Regions from separate parts of the Homo sapiens genome. Here region 2 is linked to region 1. The links come from fine-mapping of genetic effects on gene expression. A gene starts in region 1. The other region holds a variant in brackets. All regions are shown on one strand. Distances are between the middles of the regions.

Evidence for each region.
Region 2: its variant is fine-mapped to the expression of LINC03015 in cerebellar hemisphere (GTEx, PIP above 0.99).

The regions. Positions count from the first base shown.
Region 1 is chr7:140,202-156,443 of GRCh38, forward strand. It overlaps LINC03015 (long intergenic non-protein coding RNA 3015), which reads right to left and starts at 9,237. Exons shown (of 3, transcript NR_134325.1): 1 at 9,128-9,237; 2 at 8,331-8,417; 3 at 4,243-4,610. It overlaps LINC03014 (long intergenic non-protein coding RNA 3014), which reads left to right and starts at 9,517. Exons shown (of 2, transcript NR_108065.1): 1 at 9,517-9,931; 2 at 13,208-15,264. RefSeq lists an enhancer at 8,968-9,262.
Region 2 is chr7:119,396-135,637 of GRCh38, forward strand. LOC105375114 (a long non-coding RNA gene) reads right to left here and starts at 36. Exons shown (of 3, transcript XR_926959.3): 1 at 1-36. RefSeq lists a silencer at 440-658 and enhancers at 14,419-14,921, 14,922-15,424. The variant T/C (reference allele first, on the strand shown) is at 8,731.

The sequences.
Region 1 (16,242 bases):
CCAGGCTGCTCAGGAGTGGCCAGGCTCCTCCTGCCCTCCTTCTCTTTGAGTGCTGAGCATGGGAGGCAGGTGGGGGGCCAAGGTCTTTGAGTGCTGAGCATGGGAGGCAGGTGGGGGGCCAAGGTCTTTGAGTGCTGAGCATGGGAGGCAGGTGGGGGGCCAAGGTCTTTGGGTGCTGAGCATGGGAAGCAGGTGGGGGGCCAAGGTCTTTGAGTGCTGAGCATGGGAGGCAGGTGGGGGGCCAAGGTCTTTGAGTGCTGAGCATGGGAGGCAGGTGGGGGGCCAAGGTCTTTGAGTGCTGAGCATGGGAAGCAGGTGGGGGGGCCAAGGTCTTTGAGTGCTGAGCATGGGAGGCAGGTTGGGGGCCAAGGTCTGAGCCTTTTGGAAGCACCCATCATCTGGTTCTCAAGTCAACTCTGATTTTCACGTCACTGGTGATTACTTCATTTTAAAAGGTAGCCTCCTGTTTTGGAGGTGTGAACTAAAAGCATAACCCTGAATCCCCCCCTCCACTGACTGAATGACCCTTCTCGGTCAAGGGGACCCAGAGAAACCTGAAAAGCTGAGTTCCAGGCCCTGACAGGAAGGGGGTCAGACATGCCTCGTCATACTCCCTCCCTTTGGGAGTTTAGACACAACTGACCAGCAGTAATGTTAAAACGGAGATCTTAAGACTGACAAAGCAGACTCTTGGTGGCAATAGGATACCGAATTATAACAGGACCCGAGGCCGCACAAGGCAGGGGTGGGTCCCACCTGCAGGCTGAGCAGGACCTGAGGCTGCACCTGTAGGCTACAGATCCTGTAGCAGGATCTTAACTTAAACGTTCCAAGTTTTAGACAGAGCCTTGCTCCTCTCACCAACAGGAACTCAAAGAATCTCTGGATCCATCTATATCCTGTAAGCCCCCTTCAAGGTGTCCCACCTCCAAAGGCCGAGCCAGTGTGGACCTGCCATGCATGGCTGTATGTCTTTGCCTATAACTCCTGCCTCCCTGAGATGTCAAAACCAAACTGCAATCCGATCTCCTCAGGCACACGTTCTCAGGACTCGCTGGGACCGTGTCTGTCTGGCTGTGTCACTCACTGGCTCAGAAGAAACCTCTTTAAAATATTTTACAGAGTTTGGTTTTTCCATCAACAGAGAAAAGACTTGGAATATGCAGGAAAGACTTGATCAATTTCAGGTGGTGGGCAGAATGCTTGTCACAGACGCACCCACTGCAAGTCTGCACAGCTGAGTGGAAGGAGCTGGTGCCTGACACTGTGACCCGAACTCAAAGGGCCACTCAGGCAGCACAGGCTGGTTATCAAGGGCGTCACTCCACCACCTCCAAAGCAAAAGGGACGTGTGGAGGACTGTGCTGCATTTTGTCTCAGTATTCATCAGCCTGGAGATAGAAATGTGTTCCTGTCGGGGGCGAGCCTTCCCTGTTGGACGTGGGTTTCTGAGGTTGTGTTCCCATTGGGGGTCAGCCTTCCATGTTGGAAGTGGGTTTCTGAAGTTGTGTTCCCGTTGGGGGTGAGCCTTCCATGTTGGAAGTGGGTTTCTGAGGTTGTGTTCCTGTCGGGGGTGAGCCTTCCATGTTGGAAGTGGGTTTCTGAAGTTGTGTTCCCGTTGGGGGTGAGCCTTCCATGTTGGAAGTGGGTTTCTGAGGTTGTGTTCCTGTCGGGGGTGAGCCTTCCCCGTTGGAGGTGGGTTTCCGAGGTTGTGTTCCTGTCGGGGATGAGCCTTCCCTATTGGACATATGGGTTTCTGAGGTTGTCTTCCTGTCGGGGGTGAGCCTTCCCCGTTGGAAGTGGGTTTCTGAGGTTGTGTTCCTGTCGGGGGCGAGCCTTCCCCATTGGAAGTGTGTTTCTGAGATTGTGTTCCTGTCGGGGATGAGCCTTCCCCATTGGACGTGGGTTTCTGAGGTTGTCTTCCTGTTGGGGGTGAGCCTTCCCCATTGGAAGTGGGTTTCTGAGGTTGTGTTCCTGTCGGGGGCGAGCCTTCCCTGTTGGAAGTGGGTTTCTGAAGTTTGCTGTTGGAAGCAGAGCTTGCGTCCATGCTCACAGCAGCACCAGCCGCAATCAGTCACTGAGGTCTGTGCTGGGTGTGGAAGATGAGAGTGGTACCACATGTTCCTCAATCTGGACTAGAGGTTTGTCTGTGATTAGCGGAGACTGGCCTGCCAAGAGCCAAGGGCGCTGTGTTTGCATGTACAGCAGGCGTCTGATACGGTTCTGGGGCAGACGCCAGCCAGGCCGAGCAGGCAGCCTCCACTGCTCCGTGCATGGGGTCAGAGTCCACAGCATGGGACCTGGTCCCTGGGCAGGCCTGACAGACATCTGTGAACCAGGAATGGGCATATTCCAGGAGGTCTGGCACAAAGCAAAGTCATTGTAGACTTTGGCAATTGCATTTGTTCCAGATAATACATTTTCTTAGGACCTAAGGCCTCAGAACTTAAAATGAATGTTGTAAAGTTTGAAGCCAAAACAAAATGCAGACAGGCTGTACCCAGCAATTCCTGACTCTGCAATCTGGGCCTAATTCAAGTACTCATCTCCATGGCCTGCCAAAACCCTCCCACCGGAGCTCACCCTGTGGTCCAGTGCTCAGCACCATTCATACCTATGTTCGGGGACAGAAGCCACTCTGGGGACTAGGAAGAAAACACGTAAAGGAATTGAGCTTAAAATAAAAAGAAATTCGGTATATTTCATACCCACTAGCAATATGCCTTTAGAAAGAGACAGGCTGGCAACTGCACGTTGGGAAGGACGCACAGTGACTAGAACTCTCGTTCCCTACTGCTGGGAGTGCAAAACGGAACAGCCACTCTCCCGACTGCCCAGCGACCACACTCCCGGGTGTTTACCCAAGAGAAATAAAAATCGTGTCTGTAAAAGAATGTCTATCAGCCTTATTGATAACGTCTCCAAACCCTGATTACATCAAGTGTCCGACCGCAGGAGGACGGACGAGAACGGGTGGCCCTTCACAGAACAGGCTAATTCTCAGCATGTGGGAGCACTCGTGCGTGGAAGGCCAGGCGTGTGACACGTGTGAGCATAGCGTGGGCAGGACGCACGTGAGGGCAGTGGCGGCTTCAAGCACAAATCCTAGGGACTGGGTGGGTCCTTGGAGCAGCAGGCCTGGGTGAGCCTTAGTGGACTCCTCTGTGGCCTGTAGGGGGGTCTCTGCCCTCATCACACCCAAGGAGACCAGGAGACCCGCACAGATGCAGGTTCTCCTCAGTTGTCTAGTGGAGGACTTCAGATTGGAAAGAAACTCTCAGCCTGGCAGCCTCACAGTACTGAGGAGGCCACAGGCCCAGGAAGGGCCTCACTATTGGGCCCCACGCTGCCGGCTCCTGGTGACCTGCGTCCCAGTACCTGGTCTGGTTTCTTTTCCCAGACTTTGGAAGGTCCCCGTTGTCTGCAGGGGGTCCCAGCCCTGCCAGGGGAAACCCCCCAAATCCGAAGGCAAGGGAACGCCCAGGAGAGGGAACCTGCTGTCCACGCTGCAGAAAGGCCCGCAGTTCTCCTGTCTTCACAAGATGCCTGACCCCGGCTGAGTCACCTGAAATCTTTCCAAAGCACCCTCAGCACACATTAGGGCACTTCTCCCTGTATTTTGGTATCAACCTATTTCCCCTACCCTGCCTCAGTCCTATTGCTTCTTTGTGAACTTTGCTTAGAGAATCTTCTCCTGAAGTCTGCAGAGGAAACTGGGGCGCCCTCAGATGCTGTGTTCACACTGTGTGTGGACACACAAGCATCCCCTTGGCCACCCCCAGGCAGGCCCTGCAAGTCGGAGGCCTGAGGGGAGAACCAGTGTCCCCGAGACACTCTTGCTGGTCGGAGACGCCTGAGTGCTGTGACCAGGCCACACACAGAGACTGGCGCTGCAGCCCCTGGAGGGGAGGCTTCAATCTTCACCCAAAGCAGCCATCAGTGGGACTCACCCTGGGCTGGCCTGACCCAGCACAAAACTATAGTGTCGAAGAAATACAGGAAATGAAAAGAAACCTAGAATGAACTGAAACCAAAATGGGGGGAAGATGGAAATATTAACTACCCAGTATGTAAAACTGGTTTTCACACTTTTTAACGTTTTATACATGGCACTGCCTGTTACCCAGGCCCCGACTCGGCCCCTCCCTGGCCTGCTGCCTGCGTTGCTCCTGCCCGTCATTCCCTCCCCTCAGCCTGCTTTTCCTCCAAAGCTCTAGCTAATACCTGAAATGACAGCATGGATTTGCTTATTTATTTATTGGGCTGCCCCTCATACATACGAGCTGCAAGAGGGCAGGGTCGAAGCCTGTCTTGTTACAGGGCCCGTGGTGGAGCTGTACAAGTCACACCCTGCCGAGGGGAGCACTCTGCTCACCAGCCGCCTGGAGGGGCACACGTTTCCCACCCCATTCACCCAGGGGAGACCTTTTTCCGTTGCGTGCAGAGGTTCTGTGTGAGCTGGAGGCGGCCACGGGCCAGTCACACGGATGGTGGCTCCGGCTGGTGCCCATCCCTTCATATTCAGGAGAGACGGACTGTCTGTGAGACATTCTCACAGGTGCTCTGGGATACACGCCATGGCTGTACCTGGCCTCAAGTGGCTCATCGTGCTTCAGGGGATACAAAATGGATACACAGATAACTCTAATACAAAATAAGGTCTGAGGGCAGGAATTTTGGAATATTGTCATATTTGTTTCTAGAGTTATTTTAGAAAAGCTCATATTGTGGGATTTGGATGAAAATTCATCATTACATTCTTAATAGACCGATTTGGGGGGCAAACTGGAGTCCTTTTGTAACACTGGTTTGGATAAGGGAATTTGAAATTACCTCAAAGAATAAGCAACAGTTCTAATTTTCATTCCATTTAGGTTCAGAAAAAGGATGGAGGTAGAAAGTCCTCTCTCCCAAACACTATGATTGACACTGCAGAGTTCTGCAACTCTCGTACGAGGGAGATTTCATGATGATCTCAGTAACCGATCAGAGAATCAACGACTGACTTCGCTGAGGCACGGTGATGAAAAGGTCAAGGTGGTCTGGTCTGAGTGAAGTCACAGCAAGAACCCTTGTCCAGGGCCATTCTCACCTTTGGGGACAGCTCCTTCCCTGTATGGTCCTCATGTCACTGCACTTTCCTGCCTTGTTTCTTGCTGAAGCCATTATTTCTTAATTCCTTAGTAGATATGCAGAGCGGACATCCCAAAGAAGCTAGAAAAATTGATGAGCAGGGAACAGATCAAATCCTCTCCATCAGTGGAAGGCAATTCACGAGGGAAGAAGGCAAGACCATGGGGTAATTTTTCTGAGACTTGACAATGTTTGCCAAGTAAATAAATCTGCCATTTAACACTACGATAAAAGCTGTCATAGCCAGGGTATTAGTGACTACTTGAGGTTTGAGGACAATGAAGACAGAGTAAGATAAACATCCTTACTATCCAGAAAAAAAAAACGGAACCAGAAGACAGCGCTTCTTACTATCCACAAAAGAAATGGAACCGCAAGACAGCCCTTCTTATTTTTCTCCATCTTCGATGGTGAGGAAGAATAAAAAAAAAGTTGCTTTTAAAGTATATTCATTAAAATCAAATTCTATTATCATACACACAAAATATTTACGTGAAACCAGCCACAAAAGAATGACAAGGAACGCTACTGATTTGTCCATTCTGGGGGATAAGAACACAGATTCTTATCTCACTCTTGTTAAAAGAAAACTTCAGCTGAATTAAATTTAAAGGAGTTTAATTGAGCAATGAATGATTTGCACATCGGGCAGCCCCCAGAATTACAGCAGATTCAGAGAGACTCCAGTGCAGCCACGTGGTGGAAGATTTATAGACAAAAAAAGGGAAGTGAGGTAGAGAAACACCTGGATTAGTTACAGGTTGGCATTTGCCTTATTTACACACAGTTTGAACATTCAGCAGTGTATGAGTGATTGAAGTACGGCTGCTGGGACTGGCCGAGACTCAGCAATTGTGACAGGTACATACTCCTAATTTAGGTTTTCAATCTTGTCTACCTATTAAGTTAGGCTCAGTTTGTTCACAGGGACTCCAATACAGAAGTACGGAGTCCTTCTCAGGCCATATTTAGTTCGCTTTAACAATTCCCCCTTTTTGGTCATTTTATCAGTTTTGAGAGATTGATCGAAACTTGAGTTATTGATGTCACTGTCACCATTGGTCTTGAAACCCACTAGGAAGCAGAACAGTGAGTTTTGCAAAGGTAGGAACAAGGACTGAGTTGAGGATACCACCTTATGCTGGAAAGTCCTGTTTGCAAGAGAAAAACAAAACCTGGTCTATTCTAGGACCCATGTGTTTCCTTAAAGTCTTAATTCGATTATGTCACATTTAGCACGAATGATGCCATTTTGGTTCGGTTTGGTCTGTTGGGACCTAGTGCTCAGTCCAAAACAATGGCCTCCCATCATTTTGTTTAAAAAATTCCCCCTTTGTCAGGTTGTCACTTAGGCAAGAGTGTGACCAAAACTTAGGATGTTAGCGCCACTCTCCGTTACTATCATTTTGGATTTCCAGTCTCAGCATGTCACTCATCGGTTTCGGTGTCCTCGTGGTCACACATTTCTTTCAGCTCTTGTCATTCCAGTTGAAGAGAGACCATCTGACGTTCTAAAGATGGCTTCATGCAAACATTTAAAACCTTTGAGAGAATACAGTGCACCAGGGAGACTATTCTTATGACTACTGAGAGGGTTAACACCAAGAATTTGGAGTATGCTCCTTAGCCAGGGTCCCCATAAACCAGACCACCTAAACTCAAATAGACCATTCTTTGACTTAACTCAGTGGTCTTTTCGTTAATTCCCTACAACAGACTCTCTATAACACCTGATGTTTTCTCCATAGGCCTTAAGTGCCAGCATCTGCACAGGTACTTTCCTGTTTAGCCAATTCTATTTTTTAGCATAACTTTCACAAGAGAATTTAACATCTGTTGTGTAGCCTTTACAGTAGAATCTGCTACAGAGTCTACCATGAGGGATATGTTTCTAGTCATTGCCTTTTTAATTCCAAACCATGGAAAAAGGACCTAACAAATGATGCCCTTCTAGAAGAGGGAAGGCCTCTTGGCAATGGTCTCTTTAACCCATGCTGTGGGTTAAGAGGAGTGAACCAATGTTCTGCTTCTGAATGATTATGAGGCACCATATGTACCATTGAAGTTTCTCACCTATGATACACTGGGCCTTCATCTTTATCTATCAAGTTATAAGATTATCCATGTATAAAGCTGGCTGCAAAGCCCTTCACAAATAAAAGTATACCCCATAAGTGCACAAAACAGACCCCCTTCTCACTTCTGTTGTTCACAGAGGCGGAAGCAACGGAAAAACATTCAAAGATAAGAGTCTCATGATAGTAAGAAGTCTTGATCCATGATCTTCAGAAAGAGCTGCTCACATCAAGGATGCCATCTTCTTCTGGGGAGAAACTTCCCTGATTAGCTTTACCTTAAGGGTTTCAATGGATGTAGAGTTCCAAGAGTGACCCTGCTCAGTTGTGAGATTATGACCCCAAGGTTCAAGATCCTGATGTTTTGTTGCAGTGATGATGCCAAGGGCAGCGTTTCTCTGATGTTCTCAGAAGATCCCATCTTTGGGTTCTAGATTGTGAAGGGGTTGATTGTCCTCAGTGAACCATAAAAAGCTCTTTACCTGGTGAAAATACACTGATACATAGTAATCTACTGTTATAACATTAGCCCTCCTGCATGGGAAAGCTTTAGTACAACCAGAACACATACATTGAAAATGACAACTGAATGAAACCCCTTTATAAATGTTTAAATGCCTCATCAGGTAGCCAAATGTACATGAAGCTTTGATTGACTTCCCAGGAGTATGGGTTTGACAAACTAAACATTGTTTATAAACTATTTTAACAATCTGTAAGTCACCACACCAACATATTTAATTTGGATCATTTTATCTTTTCCAGGATGAGTCATGGAATGCATAACTTTTAATAACAAAAGCTTTAAGGACTCACGAAGGACAAGGCAGCCATCTTGGTTCTCCATGAGTCCATGCTTAACATCGGACTTATGTCCTCTTGGGTGCCAGTTGTTTCTCCAAATTGGGCACATAGCATGGATAACTGATGGGTTATCACAGGTAATTTGACTTAGACCATGGAGTTCATTCAAATTGTATATCTAAACAATTTCAGTATAGGCTGATTAAGTATGCAAACCTGGTGAAGCATTTCCTCGGTATTCAATTAATTTTTATTCTATTTGGGTTAGCAGTTTTATAAGCCAGTCAGTCTTTTCATTAAAGTTTCAGCAATTCTTACCCAGTCCAAATGATGTGATTTTGAAGTTACTAGAAACCTGTATTCCACAGTGCTTTTCAGGGTCCTCCCCATCCGTTCACGAACCTCCTAAAAGACACCATGTTCTAGGATTTTTGTGTGCTTGTGAAGTTTTCAGAAACTACATCAGCATGAAGCAATTAACTGCGGAAATGACTTTAAATACTCAAAAAGACACAATTGACAAAGAAATTTGGTTATAACAACAACATAACCATAATTATGATCGGTAGCATATACTCAGAAAAATTAGAATTTTAGAAATCCCATACAACTTTGGAACATATATTAATATCATTCACTAAAATATAACCTGAAGAAGGTTAAATTTTTTTTTTGACACTATTCTGTATCGAAAAGTCCAAAATGTTTCTTAAAAAGTAACTAAAAAAACACTGGAGTAATTAAAGGACACTTCCTGTGCAGGGGATGGAAAAATCTCAACAAAAAAGGAGCGCAGAAGAGCCTGGCTAGGCGGGAGAACACGGTCAGGCCCGCAGGAGACGCCGCGGCACCTGCCAGAAAGAGAGCCGCAGGCCAAGACCAGGAGACGCGAGAGAGGTGGGCAGGGCTGCCCGAGAGACCCAGGCGGCCATTGCCCGCCCTGCGTCTGCGCCTGCGCCGGAGCCTCCTCCACACTGCGCCAGCGCCGAGTCCGGCCGCCTCCTCATTGCGCCGGCGCCGGGGCTTCCTCCACACCGCGCCTGCGCCGATGACAACCCGCCTCTACAGGACGCCTGCGCAACGCCATAGTCACCTCATCAGCTCCGTGCACTTACGAGTCTCTCTCTGATCGACCACGTGTTCCTGTCGGCTCACAGAGGCCGCCTCAGGGTCCTCCCCCATTGTCTTCCTCGCACCCTCCACTGTTCCCGGCCCTTCACTCTGCGCTTGCGCAGGAGTCGCTCGCTCCTCTCTGCGCCTGCGCAGAGGCCACCTCCTCCCCGCCCGTCCGCTCCCTTGGCGTCGTCTTGGGCCGCGCCCCGACCCCTTCTGTTTACGCATGCGCAGGAGCCGCCCTGCGCGGGTGGGGGGCTGAGCCCCTGTGGCTTCAGGTTTAAAGGCGCGAGCGCCACCCACGCAGGCACAAGGGCTCCTAGTCGTTTTATTTTTAGCGTAAGGTTTTCCTCTTTAACAAGGAAGTAAAAAAAAAAGTTGTGCAATAAATATTAATCGTCCTTATATGTACTCGGGAACGTTCGTCCTTTAGGTTTTCTCCTGGCGCATGGGCGCCGCCAATCATTTCGGGGCTTATTTTGGTTCTAAAGCCCGGGGCAGCCAGGCCTCCCTGCCTGGCCTCGGCGGGGACGCGGGACCTGGGGCCCCGGACCGGGCCTAACCGCCCTGGCCGGTCCCCACTGATGGTGGCGGTCGGTCCTGATCGTCCTGATGGCAGCGACCAGGCTGGACTCGGGCTGTGCAGGGGCGAGGGGAGCAGGGCGGGGTGACGCCCGGAGAGCGGCCTGGAGAGCGCGTGCTTCAGAAGGCGTGGGCACCCTGTCCCCTTTGCAGATGGGGATGCAGGCCCTGGTGGCGGTGGAGGGGAGATGGGGGCAGGGACGTTGCCGGGCAGAGGAAGCTGGGTGAGTGTGCACTTGGTCCCCTTTGCTCCTCCCTGGGACTTTGGGCTCTATAGGGCAGCCTCCGAGGCCCACGTGCACACTCGGTGAACCACAGTCCAGACACAGGCAGGGCGGCAGGCCAGGGAAGGAGAGGCCAGGTGTTGGTGCATGGAGAGGCCAGGTGTTGGCCTGGGGGTGCTAAGTGAACCCCCAAGGTCGCGGAGACAGTAGGGCAACAGCAAAACGAGCTCTGCCGTCCAGGGCGAGGGCCCGGAGTCCTCCCCAGGGGTGGGCTGCAGAGAAGCCCCTGTCCAGGCCCTGCTCACCTGCAAAGTGCTCCCGAGCTCCTGTGCCCCCAGCAGCAATCCCAGCCCCGCTGACACCCAAGCTTGTCACCCGCTGGGTTTCTTGAGGTCTGAGGACCGTGGCTGAGGGTGCATGGGCGCTGGGATGGAGGGGGATGTCCTGTCCCAGTCTGTGCTTATTAATTGTTAAAGAGGGCAAGGCTGCTTTTATTCAAGGTGGGGGGGCTGCTAAAGCGAGATGTTGGGTTAGGGGAGGCAGATCCGGCTCAACTCCAGATAGAAAAAGTGGGAATTGACAGCCCAGGCGTAGGGTCGGGAGTGGAGAGAAAATTACTAAGAGGAAGGGTCAGGGGCAAGGCGGGTTCTAGCTGCATAGACAGGATTTTTGCTGAAAAGGCAGGCAGTGTGGTCACAGACCGAGGGTGGGAGTTGAGGACTTTGATCAGGGACCAAGAGTAGACGATTTTCACTAAACCGACTCAGCAGGATTCTTGCTAAATCGGCCGAAACCGGCCAAGGTCAGGGACTGGTCACAGGGAGGGCTCAGAGGAGCCTGACTCGAGTGTGGTCAAAGGAGAGAGTCTTTGTCATCTTTTAAGAGGCGAGAGTGACGTATTAGTGAGAAACGGTGAAGGGATCAAGCTCAGGCCAGCAGCCCCGAGTTTGAGATGAGGACAGGCTGGGTCCAGGAAGGGCTGCAGGAATAGGGGGCACCTGAGCCTGCAGAAAGCGGGGAGCCCAGCCGCCAGAGCAGGCACCCCCAGGCAGACCTCAGTGTGTCCTGCCCTGTGGGAGTGGCAAGGCCAGACCAAGCTGGATGTGAACCAGTCCCAGAACACCGCCTAGAATTTGGATTGTAATTTGTTATCGATGATATTGCTGCTTGGTCTCTCTCCTCTTCCTCCCCACCCCCACCCAAGATGGAGTCTGGCTTTGTCCCCCAGGCTGGAGTGCGATGGCAGGATCTCGGCTCACTGCAACCTCCGCCTCCTGGGTTCAAACAATTCTCCTGCCTCAGCCTCCCAAATAGCGGGGATTACTGGTGCGTGCCACCACACCCAGCTAATTTTTGTATTTTTGGTAGAGACGGGGTTTCATCATGTTGGCCAGGCTAGTCTCAAACTCCTGACGTCGTGATCCGCCCACCTCAGCCTCCCGAAATGCTTTGGGATTACGGGTGTGAGCCGCCGCGCCGAGCATGGCCATCGTGGCTACATCAGTCCCGGCTAATAGAGATTTTAGCACACTCAGATTCTATTGGCTAATAAGATTTAATTATAATTCTGGGGTATTTAACAATGTCGTTATACAGTCTTCATTGTTGCAAATGGAGAATGAAATCGGGTGCATGTGACACTAATATGACCTGTTCATGCTCTGTCACTTAAACGGAGTTAAGTAACATAGCCCTGAGCAGGAAGACTCCTTCCCCACTTCTGTCCAGGAGCTCCTTACTCGATTCTGGGGAACAGAAAGGCTTTCAGCGGCCAAGGGGAGTGACAACAGCCAGACATGAGACACCTCCTAGAGCCCTTTGGTGTTACCCTTTCCGGTCCATCAGCCACAGTGTCCACCCCAGGTAGCTGGGTCCTGAGTTCACCGTCTCAGGACATTTTTCGACCTGGTTTGTCTGAATTATTATTATTATTGATCATTGAGACAGGGTCTCAGTCCATCGCCAAGACTGGAGTGCAGTGGTGTGATCCTGGCTTACTCAGCCTCCCAGGCTCAGGTGATCCTCCCAGCTCAGCCTCCTGCGTAGCTGGGACCACAGGCAGGCACCACCATGCCTGGCTAAATTTTTTGTATTTTTTGTAGAGACCAGCTCTCGCTATGTTGTCCAGGTTGGTCTCAAACTGCTGCCTCAGCCTCCCAAGGTGCTGGGATTACAGGCATGAGGGACCAAGCTCAGCAATCTGAATTATTTATGCAGAATTTTTTTTTCTCTAGCTGGAAGAGCTGTTTATATGCACGTTTCTTTGGGGGCAACTCTTCTCCATTGTCACAGATTTTTTTTTTCCAAGCCATTCCTGGGGGATTCCTGGGAGCCATGTGGGAGAGGCGTGAGGAAGTGAGACCTTCACCCCGAGACAGGTCCTGACACACCCTCTGGTGCCTCTACTCAAGTGAGGTGAGAGGGGAAACTGGTGTATTTTTAGATGAAGTTTCCTTGGGAAATTGTTTCTATTTTATATTTTATCAGTAATCCCCTGGCTAATGTTTTAAACCAATATTTATAACACTGCCTCAGAGCTTTGGAATAAACAGATTTCCATAAAGAAAAGCTGCTTTAGAGTGCTACACTGTAAGAGGGGCCGGGCAAACAAGAAGGGACGGAGGAAAGACCACCAAGTGAGAGGCACAGGTGTCAGGACACACAGAGAGCCCGAAAACGAGGCAGAGGTGAGCGGGGACCAGCAGCACAGCGGCACTGACGCGCCAGGGACTTGGGCTCTGCTGGCCTCCTCCCTCGCGGCCAGCAGTGGCAGTGGTGGGAGTAGGCCTGGCTTGTCTGTGGTTGCCTTTGTTGCTTTAATTGAAAGTACTCAAGGCTATTTCTTGTCGCGTCATTTCTGACAGTGTCCGGTGGTCCCTACCCTGTAATGCCAGGAGGTTCCAGCCCCACCCTTCCCTCCCCACTCCCTCTTTCATCTCCCGGATCCTATTAGAGGATTGCTTTTATAGCTGATGAGCTGATGAAGTATGCATTTAGCCCTTTAACCGTAACTGAATTTCCCCTGGTGCACATCTGTATGAAGGGTGTGCACCAGGGCTGAGCCGTCTGCTGGGCGAATATGTCCCTCCCTGAGGCCCAGGACCACAACCCCTGAGTCACTCAAAGGAATCGTTCCCAGCCTTAAGGTCAGATGCGCTTTCTCCTTGTCCTCCATTATTTCTTTAAATTCCTGCCACATTTAAGTTTCTTTATATTTAAACTAAGACCTTTTATTTCTTAAACTTCTAATTGCTGTTCTTTTATTATTTTTGATAGAAGTTTGGCTGCTGTAACTGACTGGGAAGCTTAAAATAACAGACAATCATCTCTCACATTTATGGGGACTGGGAAGTCCAAGACCAAGTTGCCATCTGGGGAGGGCCTGTTCCTCACAGCGCCTTCCAGCTCAGGCCTCGTTTATAAGGGCACTCAAGCCTTCCACGACAACGGGTCCTCATGACTTACTCACCTCGGAAAGCCCCACCCCCAAGACCATCACATTGTGGGTGATGGCAGAGCATAAGGTGCCTTCCCCACATGCTCGGGTTGGCCCAGCGTCTCACGCTAGCAGCTACGTGGAATAGTTATTTTTTCTGGAGAACTCTGGGACCCCTCTGATGTCTTGGAGCACCCACACAGGCCGTTCACTGTGCACGCTGTGAGGCTGTCGTCTTGGAGCACCCACACAGGCCGTTCACTGTGCACGTGGTGAGGCTGTCCTCTGGGGAGTTCTGCTGTTGTATGGGTTCTGTCTGTGTCAATGTCCCAGCGGGAACGCAGGGCACACTAGCGTCATCCCCAGAGGGCTTGGTAAGGGGACTGTTTGCAGAGACATAGGCAGAGGGCTGGAAAACTACCAAAAAAGTGCAGTGTTCTGGACCTAATAATAGCAGAGCTATTCTCACCCTGGTCTGAAGGCAGGAGGGGAGGAGCAGTTAATGGATTCTGGAAGTCAGGTTGCACAGAGTCACCTTGAAAGATGCCATGACCTTCACCGAGGGCCAGACAGAGACTAAGATGACCCCATAGGAGAATAAGACCTAGACCTCATCCTCCTGCCTCCTGCCAGTCCCTGCCAGGGGTCGCCAATGGCAAAACAGGACTGGAAGCCAGAGGCCATGGAAGCCCATGGATGAAGTCCACAGGCCAGCCTCCCCGAGAGCAGCCTGGACGGTCCGCAGGAGACGTCTCCTGTCTTAGGCGTCCCACGCCGCGTGCTCCTGTTCAGCCCTGCCGAGGTGGAAGCTTGGAGTGGCTCACGGTGGATGCATTGACGCTGCAGACGCCAGCAAGTGCTACAAACCAGAGCTGGCCTTTAACTCAGACTGATGGAGAAGGTGTTAATAATGCAGATTAGACTTAAAAGTGTTGAAGCCATTGCACTGTGAACAGCAAAAAAATTGAAGAACTCTTCTGGCATTTAAAAACAATTACTCAGTTCAGCAGAGAAGTCACTGACAAACGAGATCACACTGACTGCTTTGTCGTTTTGGTTTTGTCTTACTCATTAATGCAAATAAGAACATTCACTAGCATCTGTGTCGGGCCTACCCTCCCTGGTCAAATACAGCTACAGTCTCCCTGCAGAAACGAGTTTTCCAGAAATGAGCCGATGTTTTCTGCGAGAATCAATTGGTCATATACAATTTACAAAAATGAGTACTGTATACTATATTTGTAAACTGTACACTGCAGATGCTTTATTTCACTGAAATTTATAATACACTTATCCATGTATATGCATGCATGCATTTTTGTTCCTGAGATCCAGCTGTGAAATGTTTACCAGCACATAAATTACCAGCACATGCTCTTTTTTGTTAACCTACTAGGTAAAATCTTCATTTATTACATCAAATTCTTGTAGTTTTTGTATTGCAATTATGCAGATATTGATTATCGCAGTATTACTGCAATTATACAGATACCACAATTTCAGATATTGATCAGCGTGTTCAGTTGGTTTCTAAGGAGGTTTACTTACCTCATGGTACACCTAGTTTGCATAGTTTGATTATATTTAACTCTTATGCTAATTGGGGGAAGTCATTGATTTATTGGACAGATGCACCTGTGGTCTTCCCTGAGCACATCCTGGCCAAGGATGCTGCCCCCAGGAGATTTGAGAAGTCCTGTAAGGATCATATCAGTATTTTCAAATACTTATAGAAAAGCCAGAGGGATTGACCCAGAATTACCAATATAAGCTTGACCCTGAGATAACAATGCCATTTTATGTTTGCATGCATAAAACCAATGCAAGAGGCTGATGACTCCAGATCCCTTATATAAGCCAATAAAAAGTAGTTTCATTTTTTATTTCATTTAAAAAAGTGTACCATTAACCTAAAGCCTGCTTGTAAAACCAGTTTGTTTCTGAAGCATTAGCTCAAAGCTCACTTGCATTTGGTGAGAAGTCCCTCACGTGTGGCTGCCCTGGCTGGGAGCTCTGAGCTCTGGGAGCCATTGGAACTGCTAATCCCACCAGTGCCGTCTGATTCCCTCTGCTCTAATGGAGGTCTTTTGCCGGGTATCCAGTGGCATTTTCTGGGCTTGGGAGTCAGTAATTCCCAGTGATCAAGTGTCTCTGCTCTGAAAATGCCTTTCTTTGTGATATGAAGCTGTCAGTGATGGAGACTGACCTTTTCATAAGTCAGTGAATTTTCTTTCTCTGAGTCATTTTAGAGAGTGAATCTGAACTCTCCAGTCTGTCCTAAGAAGACATTAATTGGAGCAGGCATGGAACCTTCAGCTTTCCCAGTCACCTGCCGGGTTACTTGGCTTAACCTGGGAATTAACCAGTTAATAAGGTTGTTGAAATGGAAAGAATCCAGGAGGCTGCAGTGTGAGGCTGATTTGCTGTCTTTATTAAGTGAGGAAATGAGAAATGGGAAGAATCCAGGAGGCTGCAGTGTGAGGCTGATTTGCTGTCTTTATTAAGTGAGGAAACGACAGCAAAGCACTTCTAGGCTTCTCACAGCTGAGCACACGAAGACTAAGCCCTCTTCCCGCCGTAGCCAGTGAGGAGAGGATCCCTCTTCCCAAGCCCCCTCAAGCAGTGGCTCCCGCTCACTGGAGGCTGGAGTTTCTAGGGCTTGTCCCTGTCCAGAGCTGCTGCCTCAGGTGTGAGGGTGACTGCCCAGCCCCCGCGCCACAGGCCCTCCTCTCACCCGGACCTCAGGACCAGTTGGTAGGCCCCAGGCTTCCACCTTCAGGGGCATGGGGACGCTGGCCCCTGTGTCCGCCGAGGACGTCCTGGCTCCTTTTGGGGGTCTCTCCTGTCAGGACAGGTTCCGTGGGGTTGGAGGGAC
Region 2 (16,242 bases), 21 kb before region 1:
GCTGAGCCTGGACAAGGGGAAGGAAGGGGAAGCTCAGCGTGGTCACCCGGCAGTTTCTCCACTCTGAACCGCGTGCTGGGGGTCACGGGGCTCCCGCTGCTGACGAGGAAGCAGGGCCCACCCTGTCCAGCCTCGGCCTCTGCAGACCTGAGCGCAGCCCCACGTATCCCCACGATGGTTGCCGTCCCTGCGTGGGTTTTATTTTCTCCACTCAGCGTCCTGTGACCACAGAGATGGCGTGAGGTAGGAAGCTGTACAGCCCCAGCACGGGGCCCACGAGAGGAAGTCTCCAGCAGCAGCTAATCCTGGGCGGAGATGACAGCCCGGAGCCTTGGGCTGTTTAAACTCCAGCTGCACGGAAAGCCTCCAGCTGAGAGAGTTTCCCAGAGTCTGTCCCCGGGGTCGAGCCTTCGGGGGCCAGGCCATGGGAGCTGGGTCTTCCTGTGCCTGGAGCCTTGTCCCCTGCGGACCTGCAGTGTGGCCAGATGATGAGTCTTGCACTGAGCAGAACTCCTTGGGCCTTAGGGGGTTCTGCCACCACCCAGCCATCATTGGCAGGGCAGGGAAGGCCGGCCCACACCCAGGTCTCGCTGCCTGGACCCTCTGGGGGAGCAAGCTTTGAGCAGGAGAGGGGCCAGGAGCCCCTGAGGAGCAGGAGCGAGGGCTCAGAGCCACAGAGAATTCCTCAGCCAGGCCTGTGACAAACACAGCTGCCACTCCTCTTCCAGCCCCACTGCCCCAGCCACATCACATTGGTCCTGGTCACTCGCAGGGAAGGGCACTCACTGTCCAGGGAGAAAACCCATTCCTTTCCTCTGGTTCTCTTCCCCAAAGACATGCAAATACTTTTTCCAGGAATTTTCTAACAGCAATGATGCACGGACCCTTAACTTTAAACTGACCTAGAGGCCCAGGAGAGCCCAATTATTTCTGGCACAGGCACCTGGGCACAGGGTCTGGCCTGGTTCACTCTGGAGTGCCTGAGTCATGGTGGAAATTCAATATTTGTTAAGGAAATTGGCAAAAGGATGAATGAAGAAAGAGAACATTGCACGGTGTGTTCAAAATGTCCGCAGCTATATTCCGCTGTGAATTCAGGAGCTTGTTCCACAGTGTGTTCAAAACGTCCGCAGCGACATTCCGCTGTGAATCCATGAGCTTGTTCCCCGGTGTGTTCAAAACGTCCGCAGCTACATTCTGCTGCAAGTTCAGGAGCTTGTTCCTAGGTGACTCCGGCACATAGGCTGGAAACACTACACTCACCGGGGGCTCAGCCCCGCACACCTGTGTGGGGAGGGAGCGGGGAGCGTCGGGGAAGAAGGAGGGGCCCGCCCCGTGAGACTGCGGCCAGGTCCTGCCCACGTGCCTGCTCTGCTGGGCTTGCAGCCAGGCCACCTCCCTGGCCCGGACCCCTCAGGGCCTCTGGACAGGGGCTGCAGGCTGCCTCTGGACTCTGCTCCTGGACTGGCCTCTGCTGGACGGCGGCGCCCTGCACCTCAACAGCCAGCCACACCAGGCATGGCCGTCACCTACAGGTGAAGCTACAAATTTAACCTCATATAAGGGAATATAACCATGGCCAAGGAGCGAGGCAAGGCTTTTTAAACAACATGTCAACAGCACAAATCAGAGGCAAGTGAGAACCAAGTTTTAAAAAGATGAATGTGGTATAATCAGCATTAAAGTTTCCTGTTCGGTCTGGGACTCCTTGGACCAAGCATTACTGGGAGGCAACCTGAATGCCCTCGGTGTGAGCGTGGAAAGATGGCAGCTTCAAGGCTGGGCTCCGCAGTGGGGCAGGCCCCGCCCTGGACGAGCACGCGGCCACACAGAGGGTCCTCTTGAGCACGGTGACTCCCGTACCCGTAACAGTCAGGCCGATTCTTCAAGAAAACATACAAACTAAAAGATGTCAAACACAGCAAATTGGCTGCCCATGGAGAAGGGTGGGAACCAAGAGAGGCACTGGCAGGAAAGGGGACCAGTCGGTGAGTGGAGAGAACCTGAGGGTCTGTGGGGCCAGCTTTCCCAGGTGCTAAGGAACAGGACCTCAGATCTCTGAAGCTAAGGGCTGGGGGAGCAGAGGAGGGAAGATGGGAAAGAGGGAGGGAGGAGTAGGGAGGGAGTGGGAGGTGGAGAGGAAGGGAGGAGGGAGGAGGGAAGGAGAGAAACGGAGGGAGGGAAGAGGGCGGAAAAGACAGGGAGGAGGGAAGGAGAGGCAGGAGGGAAGGAGGGGGGAGGAAATGCAGGAAGGAAGGAGAAGGAGCAGGGAAGGAGAGAGGACGGAGTAAAAGGGAGGAGAAAAGGAGAAGGAGGGAGGGAAAGGGGTGGAGAGGGGCAGGGGAAGGGCAGGGAAAGGCGGTGATAAGAAAGGGCATGCGAACCTGATAAAGCCAGACCAGGGTGTCCGATGTGCATCCATTTCCTCTGATAATAGGCTCCTCCCCAATAGCACAAACAATAAAGAGGAAAAACACGATACTATTTTAGGAATGGAGGTAAGTACGTGAGTGGAGATTCCAGCATCATTTGAAGATGACCAGGCAGCCCGCAGCAGTGGGGACCTCAGCGGCCCTCTGTGAACCCAGGGTCCCAAACACGCATCGGGAGACCCAGCAGTGGATCCTGACAGGTACATCACACCTGGAGTGGGAAATGCCTCTCTCTTCAAGAAGCCGTGAAACCTCTTCTTTAACTTGAACTTATGTCAAATCCCAAGAACACTTAGACCATATTCTCCAGCCAAAATCCACAAAAGGAAGAAAATAATAGCAATTGTAGAAGCAGAAACCCTAACATCCTGAATAACAAGTAAGCAAACAAAATGCCTCTTGAACAATTCTTGGGTCAAGTGGGACAACAGAGTCCAAATTTCAGAACCACCACAAATAACAATTATGGAATATGATCTATCAGAACCCGAACAATGTGACTAAAACTGTCTCAGAGAAAAATTCACAGCGATAACAATTACGTTAGCAACAACCAAATACAAACAAGTAAATTATTCATTCAACTGACAAAATTAGACTCAAGAAAATAAAAAGAACAGGATAAATGTAAGAACCAAGAAGAAGAAAATAAGATGGTAAAAGTGTGTGATTTGAAGCAGGAGACTCAAAAGCGTGCTCGTGTGGTGGGCCTTTGAAATTCACCAGTGAATAAGCCTGTGTCTACCCTAATTCAGGAACTGTGAGGACGGCATGGACACACACGTGCACACGAGTCTAACGACATGGGAAACAGTTACGACAGAAGCACACACAAGTGCATAATTTACAGATTCCATGCAAATACTTTAAATTCTAAATAATATGGGTGATTATCCCAGGCAAATATGAATTGCCCCAACTAACCAAAAGGAAACAGAAAAGTAAGCAGACTATTATTAACCGCAGAAGAAATTGAGAAATCTATTAAAACCCAGCCCACTCACCTCCGAAATTCTACGCCCAGATAAATCACAAATTCACTAATTCAAAATGCTGGTGCACCAATCTTTACAATATGATTAAAATTTCCTATTCATGAGCATAAAGAAAGAAAACCCTGTGTTCTTCTTAGGATTCCAGCATAATATTTGCACCAAAACATTGAAAAGTTGCACATACACATGAAATGAAACATACCAGCTATGGTAATAACGTCCTCACACATTACTTCATGTGGCAGATTAAAGACTCACACGTGTAACGACCACCTCTCGGCTTCAGTTGAGGTTTCCAAGCACTTTAAAACAAGTTCAGTATTAGGAAATCTACCAATATAATTCAATGAAATAATACATCACAAAACAACCACTTCACCAGGGCAGGAAAGGCAGACAGCGTGAGCCACAGAGCAGCCAGCCATGACGGAACCATGTGCCATCACACTTCTGCCCCTGGGGGACCCCGGAACCCCAGAAATCAACCCTAAACCAGGCCCACCCATCCCAGCAGCACCCAGGGAGGCCTGGACGGTCACCACACACCCACAGCCACCATGGCAGCAGCCAGCATTCCCCTGCTGGGGGCAGGCAGTATCCGCTCCTTGGAGGGTGAGATGCCTCAGACCTGGGTGGGCCTCATCCATACACTTCCCAGCAACCGTGCATCTCGGCTGGCAGCCTTCACTCCCGGAGGGGTGGGTACCGGGGTGGAGGGACGGCATAGGGTGATCCGCAGCTGCCCTGAGGGTGCCCCAGCCTGGCTGTTTACCTGAGCCTGTTCCTTTCCCCAGAAGACCAAAAAATCATGAAATAAGAGCTACAAAGATGGGAAAGAGGCAAAATTCCCATATTTTGCAGATGGTTTGAGATTGATCTGGAAAACACAGAGGATCAACTGCAAGGCTGTAAGAAACAGGAGCACTTAGCATAACAAAATGAACACTAGTCAATAGTCACCGATATCCACTTAGAAAACAGGAAAATAAAGGGGGAAAATCTCATTCACAATAGCAGAAAGACACATAAAATCCTGATGGTGGGGAATTCAGTGAGAAAGGTAGAGTTGTTGAAGGAAACGGCAAAACTCTCCTGAGGAGCATTTTAGAAGCAATAAATGGAGACTTAGATTTTAGACTAGAAAACGCACATTGCAGAGTTGGGAAGACTGGATTTTTTTTTTTTCATTGAGCATCTGTATTTCTATACATGGAAAAGGACCATAAAGTTATTTTCAATGAGTTACTATTATTATCATTATTACTGTCATGAGAGGCGAAATCTTACAGCTGATGATTTCAGGCAGACTCTAGTGCCGGGCCTCAAGTCACAGGATCCTTCTCCCCCACCTCCTGGCCTGATCCTTTTCCCATCTCTGAGCCTCAGTCTCCTCCTCTGTGAAATGGACACAGTGACGGTAACTCCTTGGTGGCCTGAGGACAGGTGCACACGCAGGAAGAGCCCCACCTGGCGGGCGCCAGGAAACCGCAGCTCAGCTCCCACTGTCAGGTGTGTCCTCCGGTGGGAAGGGGCAGGCGCAGGCGGGAACAGCCCCTGCTAGCTGGGGTTCAGCAGGGCCATGCTGTGCAGGGATGGGGACTCCTGGCTCAGGGACCTGCTTCCCGGGTCCTACACGGGCTTTATGCTAGTTTATAATATGACTTGGGGCAGCCGCCCCCCCGAGGCTGGGAGGAGGCCTCAGGAGATGGGGATCACTGGTGATGCCCGGAGGAGGCAGCTTGCAAGAGAGTGGGCTCAGCAGCGTGGGAAAAGAGGGGCCAGGGTGTCCTTCAGCTAAATGAGCTGCTTTTTCCCAGGGCAGCAATGGTGCAGCCTTTGGCACCCAGCTTCTCACTGTTGGCACCAAGAGAGCCTCTGGGCAGTGCGGGCTGGTCCAGTAAAGACAGGGGCCTCAGCTCTGGGGCTCAGCAGGCCTCTGCTCTTAGCCCCACGCCTGGAATATGAGCTTCCCATGCCTGCCCCTTGAGGTCCAAGGTCAAAGTCAAGGTCAGCCTGCAGACGGTTGGGCTCGGGCTTGCTGGTGATCCTTTCTCACTGGCCACAGGGGAAATAAACGCTGAGGATAGGGCTGCTGTTCCCACTCACACACCGGGGCCATCAGGCCTCCCAGGGGAGACACTGGCAAGAGCGGATGTGATTCTGGGAGAAATCCCTCTGATATCCAGTTCTCGCCTTGCACAAAATAAGGGAAATTAAAGGTTTCAATAGTACTGATTAGACGAGAGTTCTGCACGGCTGACTGTGGTGAGAACATTCCCATGTAAGCTGGCTGCTCTGTTTTCCAGGCCTGATGCGATCATTTGTGCAGAACCGCCTTTAATATTAATGCTGGCGGTGGGCCCCGTGGCCTCTCTGACTCTGCCTCCCTGGCCCCTCCACCCTGTGCTGGCATCCACCGAGGTCTGCATCCTGCATGTGTGGGCCACTGTCCCAGGGGTGGGCTTCGAAGAGACCCTGCTCCCCTCCAGGCTCCTGGCAGAGTGCATTGGTAACCCCTCTTAAAGAGACACGGTGGAAAGAGGGCCTCCACCCTCCTGGACATCAGGACGAGACGTAAAGTCTCCGTGCTCCTTCAGCTGCACGCAGATCGTCACTTTGCAGATGTGAAAACTGAGGCCCAGAGGGAGAAGGGGGCTGTCAAAGATCACATGAGGAGCCTCACGCAGGGCCAGGACTGCAACCCTTTTCTCTAAACATACTTTTAAATTAAAGTGTGTGGCATACCCAGGGATTATAAAACACAGATATTATAAATGTAGAGCTTCATAAACTGAAAACACTGGTGTAAGCCATACTCAGATCAAGAAATAAAAAGCTACAGGCCCCTGGAAGTCCCTCAAGTGCCTCTTCTCATCAACATTCCCCAAAGAATAACCACTGTCCCCACTTCTGAGAACATGACATCATGAATTCTGACATCAGGGCTCTGGCATCATGGCTCTTGACCTCATGACATCGTAACTTCCTACATCACGACATCATAACTTCCTACATAACGACATTGTAACTTCCTACATCATAACTTCTGACATCACGACATCGTAACTTCTGACATCATGACTTCTGACATCAGGTCTTGAGGCATCATGGCTTCTGGCACCATAACCTCTGAGATCAGAGCTTTGGCATTATGACATTATAACATCTTTTTTTTTTTTTTTTTTTTTTTTGAGACAGAATCTGGCTCTGTCGCCCAGGCTGGAGTGCAGTGGCGCGATCTCGGCTCACTGCAAGCTCCGCCTCCCAGATTCACGCCATTCTCCTGCCTCAGCCTCCCGAGTAGCTGGGACTACAGGCGCCCGCCACTGTGCCCGGCTGATTTTTTTGTATTTTTAGTAGAGATGGGGTTTCACTGTGTTAGCCAGGATGGTCTTGATCTCCTGACCTCGTGATCCGCCCGTCTCGGCCTCCCAAAGTGCTGGGATTACAGGCGTGAGCCGCCACGCCCGGCCTCCATGATCTGTTTTTAATGGAATCACTTGGTGTGCATTCTTTGGCGTCTGATTTCTTTCACTCAACATTGTGTTTGTGAGATTCATTCATTCTTCTCATTTACTCCCATTGTTGTATTTGATGGTGTGACCAGACCACGGTTTATCCATTGGTGGACATGTGGGTTGTTTCCAGTTTGGAGACTGTCATGAATAGTGTCACTCTGCGTATTGCACATGCCTTTTGGTGAACTTGTTTGTGGATTTTTCTTGGGTATATACCTAGGAGCAGAATTGTTGAGTCATAGGCTAGGCGTACATTTAGCTTTAACAGATATGAAGAGACAATTTTCCCAAATCATTCTACAGCCTCACAGTTCACATCCACTCTGACCAACAGAAGCAGTTTTGGTTGATCCACATCTCTGCCACCACCTGCTATTCTCAATCTTCTACCTGTAGTCATTCCATTCATTGTGCATTATATTAATTTTCCTAGTTATTATCTGATTCACAGCAAATGCTTAGCTTACTAATTATTAGGTTTTCTGACATTCTAATTTTTGCATTGAAGTCACAAATTTCCATCCAGTTACGTCCTTACCTGTATCCCTTCTGTACCCCTGAGTGCAAGCTCTGGGCCGGGCTCTGCCTGGGAGAGCTTCCCTGGGTGCCTGGAGACCCTTGTCCCCCCAGAAACTGGGTCTTAGATCTGACAAGGAAGTGTGTCCCTCCCTGGGCCCAGCTCCCACTATAAAAGACGCAGGTGCCCATTCTGCCAGGGGCAGAGGGTTCCTCCCCGAGCCTGGGCTCCTGTGGGAGCCTGGGGACCCCTCTAACCTGCCACCATCCAGGGACACATCCCAACTCCACTGCCTGGCTCATGTGTCTGAGGAAGGGAAACACTCTCGTTTCGAGGATCGCAGGGTCCACCCTGTTCTTGCTCTAGACTGGGAGTGGGTGAACTGCCGAGACACCGGCCCCAGCTCTGCTCCTCAGCTAATCCACCCTCCCTGGACGTGTCCACCCTCTGCTGCCAAAACGCACAATAGCAGCACAGCCTCTCTGTGGCACAGGGCTGACAAGATCCAGTGATGGGGACTCCCCCCAAGAGGAGTGGGCACCTGGGTGTGTGCCGCTGCAGGTCGTCCGTCTGGGTGGGCGACTGGGTCTCCTCACCCAGCCCTGCTGAATCTGTGGATGTTGATCCTTTAGAAAGTGGCCGGTCCAAAGGGTAGTTGGTGACACAGCTCCAGACCCAGAGTCCCTCACACGACCCACACAGAGTGGCCCTGGGCAGAGAGCTCTTCCCTGGGGCCACCCAAGGGCACTGCCTTCATCTGGGGCTGGGGGAGACCATTCATTGGAGTTGTTTTCTGGGCACCTCCGGAGTTTGTCATATTTTAAGATGATATGAGAAGATCTAATTTATTGTACATATTTTATTTTTATCACAGATCACTGGTTGAACACATCTTTCTCTAGAGATATGTGATACCATTAACCCCTGCTGCAAACACATACAATTATTTCATAAATTCCAATTCTTTCAAGAGTAATTTATGTTTTCCCTGATATAATTGATGATTGCAGTTGTGCCACATGTTTTCAGTGATCATAGCTTCACACTGTGGTTTAATTTCTGACAGGGAATGCCCCTCCTAATATTCTTCTCTTAAAATGGCTCGTGCTTCTTCAAGCTCAGTTGCTTTCCAGATAAGCTTTTGAATCCCATTAGCATGTTTTAAGAGGGCCAAATATAATTTTGTTTCGACTTTATAAGTTCTTAAGTCAGGGGAGGATTAGTCTATTTGCTCATCAGCCTTTGTCTCCAGGGTGATGACATGTCTC[T/C]ACACAGGTAAATTGTCTTAACCTCAGCAAGCCTGGGACCTTTCCCCACATGAAGCCTCTGCTTTAATACTGTTCTTAATACAGTTCCCGGCTAAGTTCATGTGTGGGTTGTTAGTATTGAGAACAGAACTAAGTTTGTCCGTATTACATTTTCTAATTTGTTACTGACTTTGTAGAGGAAATGTGTTCACTTTATGCATTTATGTTGTCATTGTTTTTACCGTGTATTTCCTCTTCCTGTCGTATTGCAGTGCGACCCGCTGGGTGCATCACTGAAGGAGATGAGACCAGCCTAGTCCTAGTGACTGCACAAGGCAAGAGGCTCCCCTCGATGTAACAGCAGGTGTTGGGAGGGTCTCCTCTCAGTCCCATTTGGGAGGACTAGGGCTGACCAACTGTGTACGTTTGTGCAGTCCAAGCTGTATTTCCAGCACTGCGCAGATTCACTGGGGTCGAAGGGCACGTCCCACCTCTCTGCCTAACCTCCTGGCTGTGTGGCCTTGTGGGAGGCAGGCATGGGTCTTTTCCAGCCACAGACACCACTCCCACTGCCCTTCTAGCCTGGCCCTGAATCCTAGGAATTTCACTCACAGCCAAGCATCTGGGATCCTTGGTCCAGGGTGAGTGCAGCAAGATGGGAAAGGGCACAGCCTGGCAGCCTCGGGAGAGAGCTGACCCGGAAAACCTGCCGGTGGCCTCGGAGGAGGGTGTTCCTCGGAGGGCAGGGTCGTCCTCTGATGCCGTGCTCAGCCCTGACCCTCCCATGACCCACCTGCTCTGTGCTCACTGGAAATTCCCCAAAATGCATCTCCGTGGGGCTCAACTCAGTTAAAAGGGAGCAAGTGAGCATCATGCAGATGGAAGCCTGACACAAACACCTCCCTCCGTTGGCCGTGCTTGGCCGGGGTGAGGACAGTGCTGAAAGCTCAGGGAAGGCAGAGCCCTGGACGACCACCCTTGCTCCTGTCTCAGGACACAGAGCCCTGGACGACCACCCTTGCTCCTGTCTCAGGACACAGAGCCCTGGACGACCACCCTTGCTCCTGTCTCAGGACACAGAGCCATGGACGACCACCCTTGCTCCTGTCTCAGGACACAGAGCCATGGACGACCACCCTTGCTCCTGTCTCAGGACACAGAGCCCTGGACGACCACCCTTGCTCCTGTCTCAGGACACAGAGCCCTGGACGACCACCCTTGCTCCTGTCTCAGGACACAGAGCCCTGGACGACCACCCTTGCTCCTGTCTCAGGACACAGAGCCCTGGATTGTCTTAGCCAGTGGTCTTTCCTTGCACAGGAAACAGGCCATGCAGAGACCCTGGCAGGCCACTGCTCCTCCCTGGCCTGGGTTGCAAGGGACAGGGGCCCTTGAGGATGGCATTCCTCCTATGGCCCTCGGCCTCGGACCCCCAGGGAGCTGTCTCCTGGCACTTCTTGGCAAGTCCACCCCATGGCCATCTGTGTTGGCTCAAGGCTTTCTTTCCCGTCGTTCTTCACATCTGGTGGCCAGGAGTTCTTCCCTGAAGATCTGGACCTGCCCATAGACCTGGGCTGGATTACAAAAAAAGAGGAAGCTGGCAAAATCCGCAGTGTGTCTTTTCCTCCAAGGACATTTAAAAAATACATGTGGGAAAAATCAGAGTTTCAAAAATGGCAAGTGTTATGAAATAAAGTGCACACGTCCTCTTTTCTGCACGAAACAGAAAGCACGCGGTTATTTTCAGCTCCCGGAGCTCCACTGGGAATAGGGTGGTAGAGTTGCCAATGTGTACACAGAAGGGTTCTTTTTTTATCAGCTGCTGAAGGCTCCAAGGATGGAGTGCGATTCTAAAGGGTGCATTAAGGCAAACATTGAGCTAACAGAGCGAAGGCTGCCAGCCAGCGGCGGAGATGGGCGTCCCTGGAACGCCTCCGCTTCCCCGGCTGCCCCGCCGCACTCCCAGGCTCCGCTGCCTCATGCACAAGGTCAGGATGCTGATGGGAAGACCCTGGGTTCCTAAGGAGGATTTGATGAGAAAACGCACAGGAGGTGCCAGCACACTGCCTGCCACACTCAACAAAGGCCATTGTTATTATTGTTGCTGCTATCATTAGTGTTCGTCTGCAGATTCCAGGGTGACATCACTTGACTCATTTTTTAACTGTGTATTTTGAGATAATTTTAGGCTTACAGAAAAGTTACAAAAGTTGCAAAAGTTACTTCTCCAGGGACCAACAGCCTGGAGGAGACCCTGTTCCTTGTGGAAACTGGCCGCACACCTCCTGCCTTGCACAAGATGTCAGGGAAGGGCGGTGGCTTTGGAGGCTTCAGGGAGTGAATGTCGACGGGGTCTGCAAGAGCTCCCAATGCCCAAGCTGGAGAAATTCTAGGAACAAAATAAATAATCGTAGCCCAGATGCTCCTGGACTGGTGGGGCCACATCCTGACAACCCATCGTAAGTTTAATATACCCCAGGGACATGGATGAAGCTGGAAACCATCATTCTGAGCAAACTATCGCAAGGACAGAAAACCAAACACCGCATGTTCTCACTCATAGGTGGGAACTGAACAATGAGAACACTTGGACACAGGAAGGGGAACATCATACACCAGGGCCTGTTGTGGGGTGGGGAGAGGGGAGGGATAGCATTAGGAGATATACCTAATGTAAATGATGAGTTAACGGGTGCAGCACACCAACATGGCACATGTATACATATGTAACAAACCTGCACGTTGTGCACATGTACCCTAGAACTTAAAAGTATAATAATAGAAAAAAAATACCCCAGGTCAAAATGCATTTAATGCACCTCATCTTCCGGGCATCATAGCTGAGCCCTCTCACCTCAGACATGCTCAGAGCGTGGATATGAGGCTGGCATTGGTAAAATCATCTCACACAGCTCACAGCTGCCTGAAGATGCTCACTCACCAGCTGCCAGCATTTCTGGGGCGGTCCTGAGAGGGTCTGCAGCTGGCGCACGAGGTGAACACAATGCTAAGGACAAAATTACACAAGGAATGTGCAAGAGTTCCACTGTTCACAGTGGGAATCACCTAATTCACACACAACCAGCTTCACAAAATGAGCTCCAGGCGGCCGGCTGGAGGGACGCGGAGGCCAGCAGGTGGAAGCCAGTGTTTAAAGCCACAGGTAGACGCGGCCTCAGCACCTTCCCGTTTGTGCCGGCCCAGAGGCACTGCCTGAGCACACCACCTGGGGAGGCTGCAGGTCTAAGCAGCCTGAAAGTGACCCTCACCAGGCCCTGAAGCCACCACTGGGTCGGGGGCCCAGCCTTCCTTCCAGTGCAGGGGCCCCACCCCAGCCGACTGCAGACTCAGGGTGCAAGCTTCCTCTGCTTGGGTACTCCTCGAGGTCCTCCTGGGCGTCCTGAGCTCCTCTGTGTGCATTTCCTATGCTGTTCACAGTCCTACTGCATGGCCCAGGAGGGAAAGGGAGGGGAGGGGAGGAGGAGAAGGGACTCTCCTTGCTCCCAAACTGCTGAACACTCAGCATCTGCCTCCTTTCTCAGCCAAAGGAAGGCCCTCGCCAAACACTCCTGACTATTGCAGTTGCTGGTCACCTACTCCTGTCCCACTCAATGGCTGCCCCCCGTCAGCCACCTGTGGCCCAGTGATCAGCTCACCTCCTGCACACACCATGTGGGCAGCTCACCAAGCCACCCTCCCCACCATTTCCAGGAAGGGCCAGGACTCACAGAAAACAGGCTTGTTTGTGAGCCACGCGGTCACTTACACTTTGCAAAGCGGCGTGGGCGCTTCTATTCTGAAGCATCCGCCGAGGCTTGGAACACACCCAGCCGGCAGCTGTCTGCTCCACTCGCTCCTCTGTTTTGGGGAAGGGCCTCTGGCAGAGGGAGTATGAGGCCTGTGGTTCTGACGGGAGGAACAAGGGTGTCTGAGGGACCAGGGAGGAGGGTGGGAGACTGTCAGGGGGACTTGCAGACCACAGTATTCATTTCTTACAGCCCCCGGACAATGTGGCAGCTTGAACAACACCCATGTATTATCACAGTCGGAGAGGGTTGGCTCAGCGGGGTACTCTGCTCTCATAGGCCAAAGTCAAGGTGCCAGTGGGCCGTGCTCTTGTCTGGGGCTCGAGGAAAGAACATGCTTCAGGCTCACTGGGGGCTAGAGGACTTCTCCCTGTGGCTGAGGGACAGAGGCCCCACTCCCCTGTGGGCTGTCAGCTCAAGGCTGGCTGCATCCGCCTTCTCAAAGCCAGCAAGGGCACCCTGAGTCCTCCTCACGCCGAGTCCTCTCTGCCACCCTCTTCCGCCTGCATCCAGAGGACGCTCTCTGCTGTCAGGGCTCCCCCAGAAACCAGGATAACCTCCCTCGTTTAAGGCCAACTGTCCAGAGAACAATGTGCCTCAGGGCGGCCTCTCATCACACTCAAGCTTCTGGGGGTGAGTGCGGGACATCCTTGGGGGCCTCCATAGCCATCGTGAAGGTGGCTTTTCCTGACCTAGCTGGATGGGGACCTGCTGGAGAGACGGGAGCTGAGAGGGGTCTGAGCTGACATGTATTTTTGGAAGAAACCTCTGGCTGCTGTGTTGAGACTAGACTGGATATAGATACAGCTCATGTATATTGTTCATTCACAGAGCACTTTCACCAAACACCCACATTCCAGCATTCCTGAGTGTGGCCTGCTACCTCAGAACAGAAAGCGGGAGAAGGAGAGCTATATCATCATCTTTCTGTCTATCTATCCATCTATCATCTATCTATCATCTATCATCTATCATCTATCTATCTACCTATCTACCTATCATCTATCACCTATCTATCTATCTAACCTATCTACCTATCATCTATCATCTATCTGTCTCTGTCTCTATCATCTATCATCTATCTATCTATCATCTATCTATCTGTCTCTATCTATCTATCATCTATCTGTCTCTATCTGTCTCTATCATCTATCTATCTGTCGCTATCTATCATCTATCTATCTATCATCTATCACCTATCCTCTATCATCTATCATCCATCTATCTATCATCTATCTGTCTCTATCATCTATCATATCTATCTATCTATCTATCTATCTATCTATCTATCTATCTATCATCTATCTATGTGTCTCTGTCTATCTATCTATCCTTCTGTCTATCTATCCACGTGCCTTTCTGTCTGTAGACTGGAGGTGGGTGGGAGGGGCATGGCAGCCATACAAAACAGGTACAGAAGTCACAGGTGACAGTGGCTCCATCAGAGTGGTGATGGTGGAGGTAAGAAATGGTTGTGTCTGGAAAGATTTTTAGACCAGCGCTTCCCAAAAGCCCTCTCCCCGCATCCCCCACCCCCACCACCTCTGACACCTAGCTTTTTCTTCCATAAGAGTCTGGCTTAGCTTAAACTTCAGGGTCATTCTGATTTACAATACGGCAAAATCCTGTAAGCAAAGATGCACAAAGACTGCAGGCCTGAAATCAGTGTGAAAAGAGAGTATAAAGGGAACACGTGCAGTAAAGTATTTCAACACATTTACTCTGTGCACACGTCTGCAGCCTCAGCCGCGCTTCTGACCTCAGGTCCAGCCACACATCCCGCCCCCGAGGGAAGGATTCAGACCTGGAGCCCTTTTTCTTGAGGAGCTGGGCAGTGGTGGGCTGGACAGCAGAAGGAAGTCCAGAAGCCAGATCTGCACAACGGGTGGGGGTCGGGGGTTAGGGGTGGGGGTGAGGGTGGGGGTCGGGGGTTAGGGGTGGGGGTGAGGGTGGGGGTCGGGGGTTAGGGGTGGGGGTGAGGGTGGGGGTGGGGGTGGGGGGTGGTCCGCAAGCCCAGGGAAGCAGGAGTGGGGTTAGGCACGGAGATAGGGAAGAAACGGGACAAATTCAGAGTGATGCTCTGTTTATGTGTTATTTATTTATGTATTTATTTTGAGCTACCACAGATCACAAAGAAAACAGCCGATGATGGCTCATGAGGGTGTCTCAGGGAGGCCGTCGGGGCCCCTGCACCTTGAGTTGTTCTAAGGTAGGGAGGAGGGAAAGCGATCAGCCTGCTGGTCCCTTTCCATTGCTCAAGACCCTGCCAAGCAGCCCCTGGCCTTTGCCCAAAGTGGAGACGATGGAGGGCTCAGGACGACGGGGCGAGGTGCTCAGTGCAGAGGAGGGAGCCTGCACCCACTGGGGTAGAGCTGATGGCCTGAGCATATGCGGCACCCACGGGACAGAATGCTCTTCCCCCATCCTTGCCCAGGTTGCTGGAGCTGACACCCAGGTGAACGCGGCTGGGACGAAACAGTGGTGAGCGGCCACTAAGCTTCTGTCCCAGTCTCCGTCAGCTGACCCCACCGAGAGCACACACTTACCCAGGAGAGAATCACACCCGGCCCTTCTGAGTGCTGTGGCGCCTTCAGACTTTATTCGTAGCAGATGCCGTGAGGACTCTGCCCACATTTCTCTGTATCCACTGACCATTTTTATGCCCCCGAGCCCCAGGTCTCTCAGTCCCAGCATCCGGCTTCTGAATCTTGCAGGCCCCCGAGCCCCAGGTCTCTCAGTCCCAGCATCCGGCTTCTGAATCTTGCAGGGGCTGCCCTCTGGCCACAGGAACCTCTTCCCTGGGGTTCGCTGAGCTCCTGGAGGGCTACGCTGTCTGGGAATTTATAACCCTCAGACAGTGAATGACAGATAAGACATAGAGCACCTGAGCACCCCCCAAACCAAAGGGCACACCTGTGAGCAGTGACAAGCAGCCTCCCAGTTCCTCCATGAGATGGAGCCGGAGTGACCCCCACAGCGTGCGGCCTCCTCCCCACCCAGTACCACCCCCCATTCCCACAAAGGGGTCTTCCAGGGAACACATCATTTATTTATACTGCTTCCACACAAATCCTCGTCTTGGGTTTGCTTCTAGAACCCCAGACTGAGATACCAACCCACAATCACGCCAGTGTTCAAATTCCATTCCCACCCAGGTGCCGAGGACGGCCAGGTGAGCAGCAGAGGACGATGACAGGAATTCTGAGTCCGCCTCAGTGAACAAAGCGGCGTGTGGCACACGGTCATGCCACGAGCCTGAGAGCAGATTGCAAAGCAAAGCGTGTAGTGCAATCCAACTTTTGGAAAGAAAAATAAATCCTTTATATATGACGGTGTAATAAAGAATTGAACCTTGCCCAGAGAGACCTGGCCTCTTCCCCCAGCTTCTGAGAGGTGGTCTCTAAGCCACATGGGACGGTCTTGGTTTGCCTGGGCCTTTGGACCACACCAGGAGGCCTAAAGTGTGATTCAGGTAGGGGTTGCGATGAGCTCACCCTCGAGTGAGCTGGAGACCTCCATCCGCATGGGCAGTCAACCATGGGGCCCCAGCAAAGGCTCTGGGACACTAAGCTCGGGGGATCCCACCTGGATGCCCCAAGTGACACTGCCCACAGCTCTGTGGGGAAGGACCCTCTGCAGGTGGGAACTTCCTGGACTCCGGCCTGAGCGCCTTTCCCTGGGTTGATAGTCATCTGTGTCCTACCCTTGTGCTAAGTCATGACCATGA